Homo sapiens: one gene and its partners. Changing the gene in region 3 together with the main gene of any one other region gives a genetic interaction. Each region holds a gene or a part of one and is shown on either strand. Other genes may lie near its edges.

Region 1 (2,904 bases), on a different chromosome or scaffold from region 3:
ATCTCCGCCCAGCCCAGGTGAGGCACAGAGGAGCCCCAGAGAAGGATGGCGGTGGGAGGATAGTCAGGGTTCTGCCCCCAGCCAAATTCTCTTCTGCCTCCAGAATTACAGGGTCCCCCATCGACAGAGAAGGAAGCCATACTGCGGAGGCTGGTGGCCCTGCTGGAGGAGGAGGCAGAAGTCATTAACCAGAAGGTGATGGGCATCTGTCCCACTCCTTGGCAAGGACAGGAGTTGCGGAATGGTGGGGCACTGGGATCAGAAGCTGGATCTGTATTTTCTTTGGATGGTCAGGTGGAAAGAGGCTGGGACAAGGTTTCAATGAAGGGTTGAGGCCGGGTGTGGTGGCTCACGCCTGTAATCCCAGCACTTTGGGAGGCCGAGTTGGGTGGATGACTTGAGGTCAGGAGTTCGAGACCAGCCTGGCCAACATGGTGAAACCCCATCTCTACTAAAAATACAAAAATCGGACAGGTGTGGTGGTGCGCTTCTGTAATCCCAGCTACTCAGAAGGCTGAGGCAGGAGAATCGCTTGAGCCCAGGAGGTGGAGGTTGCAGTGAGCCAAGATTGCGCCACTGCACTCCAGCCTGGGTGACAGAGTGAGACTCTGTCTTTAAAAAAAAAAAAAAAAAAGAATAGTTGAATGACAGGGGTATGGTTAGGGTAGTACTGTACCGTAAATTAGTTGTTTTAATTGATTGTTTAGAGGGGCATGGCCTAAATGCAGAGGGTGTGGCCATCAGAAACATTATCCACAAGAGACTGGCCAAGCTGGGGAAGTAAGTGAATGAATGTGGGGGTGGGGGGAGTGGCTAAAATCTTACTGAGCATAGAAGGGACCTGGCTTAGAATGTAGGGGAAAATGTACTACCAGAGGAGGTGTGGCTTGTGGCTGTGTCCTGGAATCTGATTGGCTTCGGAGCTTGGACAAGGTACATCGTCCTTTAATATTAATTGAATGGTAGAGGGCAAGATTGTTGTAGACACTAGGTTGGCCCCTGGGAAAGGTCACCAGGGGCATGGCTAGATTAACTCAGTTACAGTAGAGATTGGCCCTGATTGGCTGTTGAGGCAAGGGCCTGGCATGGCTTAGGGACTCACGTTCCAGGCCACTATCCCGGGGGTAGTTTGGCAGAGACCCTGGAGTCTGGCTTGATTGGCTAATATGGATGAGGGGTGGCCTAGAACCTTAGCATCTAGAACGATCCTGAACCGGGAAGCCACGCCTCCCGGCCCTCTATTGGCTGGCCCCGGGGGCGCTGCTGACGCGGACCCTGCCTCTTCCACCCTACAGCTGGCCTCGGACCCCGCCCTGCGCAGCAAGCTGGTCCGCCTGTCCTCCGACTCTTTCGCCCGCCTGGTGGAGCTGTTCTGTAGCCGGGATGACAGCTCTCGCCCAAGCCGAGCATGCCCCGGGCCCCCGCCTCCTTCCCCGGAGCCCCTGGCCCGCCTGGCCCTAGCCATGGAGCTGAGCCGGCGCGTGGCCGGGCTGGGGGGCACCCTGGCCGGACTCAGCGTGGAGCACGTGCACAGCTTCACGCCCTGGATCCAGGCCCACGGGGGCTGGGTGAGCCGCTGAAGCCTCTCTCTCCGGGCCTCACTTTACCTAACTGTCATGTGATAGAGGAGGGGCGGGGACTTCTTAGGTTCCTCTCAGACCTCAGGTATTCTCCCAGCTCCACTGCGTTCGTTCTGTTGAGCCCTTGCTGTATGCCAGGACTGCAGCGATGAGTGCAGACACTATGCCTGGCGTCAACGACTGGGTACGCTAATACTGTGAGCGTGAAACCAGTGACTGAGGTTACTCAGGGAGAGGCCGGACGGGGTAGCTCATGCCTGTAATCCCAGCACTTTTGGAGGCCAAGGCAGGAGAATTATTTGAGGCCAGGAGTTCAAGACCAGCCTGGACAACATAGTAAGACCCCATCTCTACAAAAATTGAAAATAACTAGCCAGGGTCGGGTGCGGTGGCTCACACCTGTAATCCCAGCACTTTGGGAGGCCGAGGCAGGTGGATCACCTGAGGTCAGGAGTTTGAGACCAGCTGGCCAACGTGGTGAAACCCTGTGTCTACTAAAAAAAATACATAAATTAGCCGGGCGCGGTGGCAGGTGCCTGTAATCCCAGCTACCGAGGAGACTGAGGCATGAGAATCGCTTGAACCTGGGAGGCAGAGATTGCAGTGAGCTGAGATCATGCCACTGCACTCCAGCCTGGGCGACAGAGTGAGACTGTGTCTCAACAAAATAATATAATAAAAACCTGGTGCGGTGGCTCACACCTGTAATCCCAGCACTTTGGGAGACTGAGGTGGGTGGATCACTTGAGGTCAGGAGTTTGAGACCAGCCTGACCATGGTGACATTCAGTCTCTACTAAAAATACAAAATTAGCCCGGCATGCCTGTAATCCCAGCTAGGGAGGCTGAGGCAAGAGAATTGCTTGAACCTGGGAGGCAGAGGTTGTAGTGAGCCGAGATTGCACCACTGCACTCCAGCCTGGGCAACAAGAGCGGGGCTCTGTCTCAAAAAATAAATAAATAAAAATTTTTAAAATTAATAATAATTAGCAAAGCATGGTAGCTCACACGTTTACTCCCAGCTACTCAGGAGGCAGAGGAGCCGGGAGGATCACTTGAGCCCAGGAGTTCAAGGCTGTGGTGAGCTATGATTGCGCCACTGTACTCCAGTGTGGGTGACAGAGTGGGACCCTGTCTCAAAAAATAAAATAGTGAGAGTAGTAGTGCTACCTCAAAGGGTCGCTCTGAGGGTTAAAATGGGGTCAATGTGGTAAGCCCTCTGTGCACTGCCTGGCATGCAGGCATTTTGTTGGTGAGGTTATATGGCTACCTGCTGCCTTTCCAACAGTGCCTGCCAGGATGCCCTCCCGGGGAACCCCCTGCCT
Region 2 (2,407 bases), on a different chromosome or scaffold from region 3:
CACCTGAGTTCAGTGAGAGAGAAAATGATTTAGATCTTGGTGCTGGGGCAAGGCCATCAGCTTCAGAGACCTTGCCAGGCCCAGGCTGGGTGCCCTGTGGCCTGAGAACTGAGCCCAGACTTTGACAAACCCACCTCAACATCAAGCCTGGGGCAGGTGGAAGGTGGTCTGACTGCACTGTCTCCATCTTATGCAAAGCCAGGAACTCACTCACTGTCTTAAGTGAGCCAGGGCAAAATTTACACCCCTCACGTTTCCCTCTCCCTTCTTCCCCACCAACAAAACCCAGGAGGTAGCTGGCAGAGTAGCTGTCAGGAAGGAGAAAGGTTCTTTCTGGCTGGTTGTTTTTAATTGGCTTAGTGATCTAAACTGGCCCCTTCCTCCTCTGCCTGGTGAGTTGGCCTAAACATTCCTCAAGTCTAGCCTCAGGAGACCTGCCCCTCCCCCCCGACCTCCACCCCCTCAGACTCCATCCCCCACCCCCAGGAGCCTGGCTGTCTCTAGCGAGGGGTGGAGAATCAGATTTAGAGGGAGGGAGAGTCTGACCTGGATCCTGACCTGTAACCAGCTGAAGACGGTGGAGGCTTTGTGGCTTGCTGAGGGTGGGGGTTGGGAGAGGGACTGGAAACCTTCCTCCTCGGGAAAGAAATGCCTGGGAGGAAGGGAAGCCTGATATTCAGGGTCAAAACAGCCCTTCTAATTCACAACCCCAAAGCAGGGGTTTCTAGAAGTTGGTCAACAGATCTGGTGAGGGAAGTCCCCAGGCCAGACGCTGGACTCCTGCAATGAGGGTGGAGGACTCAGCCTGGCCTCTGCCTGGCCTGTTTCAAAGTCTGGGCCACTGGCAGCCTTCTCTTGCTCAATCCGAGGTGGAAAAAGATCACCTCCCAGTGACCTCCCTCAGCCCCCAGGGGAGTAGGTCTGTGTCCAAAGCTATGTGGCAGGCTTGTTTGAAGGACCCAGAGGGGCCCAGCTGACCTGTCTCACTGCTCCTGGCAGCCCAGCCCCATCGGCAGGTGGCCCCTGCCTGGGGGTTATTCGGGATGGTTCAGCCAGGGCCTCCCAGGAAGAGTGCTGTGGAGCCACGGTGACTGTCCTGGACAGCAAGGAGCATGCTACCCCAGTGAGCACTTCTTTTTGAGGGACTTGATGGGGAGGTGGGGTAGGCAGAAGGGACGTGGCAGAAGCGGGAAGACTTTGGTCACCATGGCTCTGCAGGCCTTCTGCAAATCAGTGCTGGCCTGGGCTGGAAACAGCTCTGTGTGTGAAGGTGAGGACTCTTGGAAGCAGGCCATCCTGGCCAGACACCCTAGCAGGAAGGGGCTCACCTGTCACCCTTAGGCAGCCTGAGGGCTGGTGGGGACTTTTGAGTCTTGAGGGGATAGCGGAAAAAGCTGAGCTCATAGGTGCCCAGCCAGCCTCCCAGCTAAAGGTGCTCAGAGCCCCACTGCCCCCTCTCTCTGTGCAGGTGGCCAGTGCCCCTCCCTGCTCTGGGAGCATTGCTAGCCTTCTACCCCATCCCTGGATCCACAGGGGCTATCGAGGAGACCCAGTGAGAATGTAGCATTTTGTTCATCCCCAGGGTAGCTGCCCTGGGGTCTGGGCACTCTGCCTCTGGGAGAGAGGAAGAAGAAAGGGGCCCCATTTTTTAAAAAACTGTACAGAGCCTTTGGCTTTATGTGTTTATGTTCTTCACATGCATATGTGTGTATGTGTGTATATCTTTCCCCCCATCAATTGGTACAATTTTTAATAAAATCATTTAAAGCAAATCTGGTCTTTTATTTTTCAAGGTGTGGTAAAAATGCAAGGAGATCAGTTAGGAAATTAAAGCCTTCTAGCTTTCTCAGCTGCCAGCTTGAGTGACCTGAAGGCGCTCAGCTTTCGCCGTGATTTCCTTTCCCCTCTTGGAGTTGAGAAGAGTGATTCCGACCACCACGCGATAGGCAGCACAGCAGAGGCCCTGTGAGGGGGAAAGATGCAGGTTTTGGACCCGGTTCCCTCCTCCTCCAGCTGAATGATCTTGGGCAAGTTATGTCACCTCTCTGAGCCTTCAGTTCTTCCACGTGTGAAATACGACTGTGCCGGCCTTGCAGGATTAAAGGGAATGTGTCAAAAGGGCCTGTCTGCCACTGGGACCCAGTGAGGGAAAGGACCCCGGCAGCCCCTCCCGCACACACTACCCCACCCCTCCTTTCTATCAGGGTAGCCCCTCAGGAGGCAAGCTAGTTGTAGGGGGACTTCCTGGCTTGCATTTCTTTGTGGATTAACAATGTGTCTGATTCAAAGCGGTGATTTAAAGCTCTTGACAGAGTTCTGAAAATCCTTGGGAAAAACTACTCCTGATCCTATCAGCAGTAAGTTATGAACTGAGGGGCCAACCCGCCCTGCATCTGTTGGGCTGTCC
Region 3 (2,532 bases):
TGTCTCCACCTCGCCCTCCCGTGTGCGTGGCTTTCTCCTAGCTCTTGGGCACATTCTCACGTCCCCCCCATAACCCGTCACCTTCATTTCTGCTGGTGCTTTTGGGAGTCAGACCTACAGACTGCATCAGCATCACCAGGCAGTTTGCTTTCTGGAGCCTTTTCCAGAACTGTCAAGCAGACTCTGGGGGCAAGGCCTCGGGATCCTCATTTTAAATACAAGGTTTAAGCCCTTCGTTTCAGGATGGATTTCTGCAGCCACTACTTCCCAGCTACTGTCCTTCGTCCTGCCCGGGTTTTCAGAGCCTGATGCTGCCACTGGCGACCCACACCCCCTCAGCTGCTTTTCAGAACCACACGATAAAATCTGCCCCGAAAGCTGCTGCAGCACTGTCTGCGCTCACAGTGCCCACCACACCACCGCCCACAGGCCAGGCCAGCCAGGCTTCCGATTCTGCCCTTTCCTGGAGACCCATCCTCCTCCCTCCGGGAGTGATGCCCGCTGGTCAGCTGGAGCGAGCCTCTCTATTGCCGAAAAGCCTTTTCTGACACTCCTGCATCTTTAGTTTGGGACATCTCTCCCACTACCAAACTTAAACCACATGAGGGCAGGGGCTTCATTTTTAAGCAGTTGGCTTTGGTGAGGCTGGTGGTGATGAACTAGCAACACCATCTTGCCCTGGTAGGTGACTTCCCCCAGCACTGAGTTGGAACAAAGCAGAAGCTTTCTGTGTGGAAACAGCATTCGGTTTGGTGATCCTTCTATGTAAGAATACGATCTGATGTTTTCTAAGTTAATTAATACAAAATACATATTGATAAAACACTAGATAAAAGATCACAGATAGATTCATTACAAAATTTTTATAATGGGTATAAAATCACCAGTCCCCTTGCATAAGCTCTAACCACAGTGAGCTACCCTGTTTCAGCTGTAACACAGTCTCCTGTGAATCACAAGATACATTAACTACTGATAATTTTTCTGTGAAGGATCTATATTGGAAGGCGTCTGACAACCTCCACCAGCACCTTTTGATGAAGAACTGGAGTCTGACTTGGTTCGTTAGTGGATTACTTCTGAGCTTGCAACATAGCTCACTGAAGAGCTGTTAGATCCTGGGGTGGCCACGTCACTTGTGTTTATTTGTTCTGTAAATGCTGCGTTCCTAATTTAGTAAAATAAAAGAATAGACACTAAAATCATGTTGATCTATAATTACACCTATGGGATCAATAAGCATGTCAGACTGATTAATGTCTACTGTGAAAATTTGGTAGTAAATTTTCATTTGATATTAGATATAAATATCTGAATATAAATAATTTTAATATACTAGTCATGATGTGTGTTGTATTTTAAAAATTATCTGCAACCTTAATTCAGCTGAAGTACTTTATATTTCAAAAGAATGAATAACATTGATAATAAAATCGCTACTTTAAGGGGTTTGTCCAAAATAAATATTGTGGCCTTATATATCACACTATTGTAGAAAGTATTATTTAATTTAAATGGATGCAGGTTGTCTACTAAAGAAAGATTATATATAACTATGCTAATTGTTCATAATCAACAGAAACCAAGATAGAGCTACAAACTCAGCTGTACAGTTCGTACACTAAACTCTTCTTGCTTTTGCATTATAAGGAATTAAGTCTCCGATTATTAGGTGATCACCCTGGATGATCAGTTTTCTGCTGAAGGCACCTACTCAGTATCTTTTCCTCTTTATCACTCTGCATTGGTGAATTTAATCCTCTCCTTTGTGTTCAACTTTTGTGTGCTTTTAAAATCAGCTTTATTCTAAGCAAATCTGTGTCTACTTTAAAAAACTGGAAATGGAAAAAAAAATAAATCTTTGCCAAATCCTTCAGATTACTGTATTTACATATGGTTTAAAATCAGACGTCATGATAGCTTCTTAATGAAACCAGGACTGGTCCCTATTTTGACATTATCTTTCCTACAGCAAACTTTTTAGAAAGGCTGCCTGCCGCCTTGATGTTTCACCTTTCCACGCTTAATTCGGGTGTTAAATCTAACGTTTTCATTTGTAAAAATCTTTGTTGATGCTACCTTGGAAGCAGTCATCTCTCAGTCTTACATTTGGAGAATGTGGATGGCATGACATCAGAATTCCTTTATATAATTTAACTTCAGAATAGTCTGAGATCATCGAAGCACGATGGTCAAGGGAATTCCGTTTTTGTTTTAGAGCAAATATGTTTGCTGTTTGTCTTTCATCACAAACATCAGTGGAGTTTCAGCACCTTACAGAGCTCAGTGAACCCCCTGGTCACCATCAAAGTTAGCACACAACAAAGCCAACCACGTGTCCCCCTCACAGATGACAATGGCTGAACTCTGAGTGAAACCACCTGTATGGCCGGGCACAGTGGCTCACGCCTGTAATCCCAGCACTTTGGGAGGTTGAGGTGGGTGGATCACCTGAAGTCAGAAGATTGGCCTGGCCAACATGATGAAACCCCGTCTCTAATAAAAATGCAAAAATTAGCTGGGCGCAGTGGC

The links.
Region 1: changes in BNIP3 (region 3) and BCL2L12 together harm fitness more than expected from each alone (negative genetic interaction), as found in Homo sapiens cells (one large-scale study listed by BioGRID).
Region 2: changes in BNIP3 (region 3) and BMF together harm fitness more than expected from each alone (negative genetic interaction), as found in Homo sapiens cells (one large-scale study listed by BioGRID).

The regions. Positions count from the first base shown.
Region 1 is NC_000019.10:49,668,921-49,671,824, forward strand, and holds part of BCL2L12 (bcl-2-like protein 12), read left to right. Parts: coding exon 1-17; intron 18-103; coding exon 104-195; coding exon of another isoform or gene 196-244; intron 245-1,295; coding exon 1,296-1,568; intron 1,569-2,904.
Region 2 is NC_000015.10:40,087,255-40,089,661, reverse strand, and holds the end of BMF (bcl-2-modifying factor), read left to right. Parts: 3' UTR 1-1,772; downstream 1,773-2,407. UniProt on the Homo sapiens protein: May play a role in apoptosis. Isoform 1 seems to be the main initiator.
Region 3 is NC_000010.11:131,967,030-131,969,561, reverse strand, and holds the end of BNIP3 (BCL2/adenovirus E1B 19 kDa protein-interacting protein 3), read left to right. Parts: intron 1-992; coding exon 993-1,038; 3' UTR 1,039-1,878; downstream 1,879-2,532. UniProt on the Homo sapiens protein: Apoptosis-inducing protein that can overcome BCL2 suppression. May play a role in repartitioning calcium between the two major intracellular calcium stores in association with BCL2.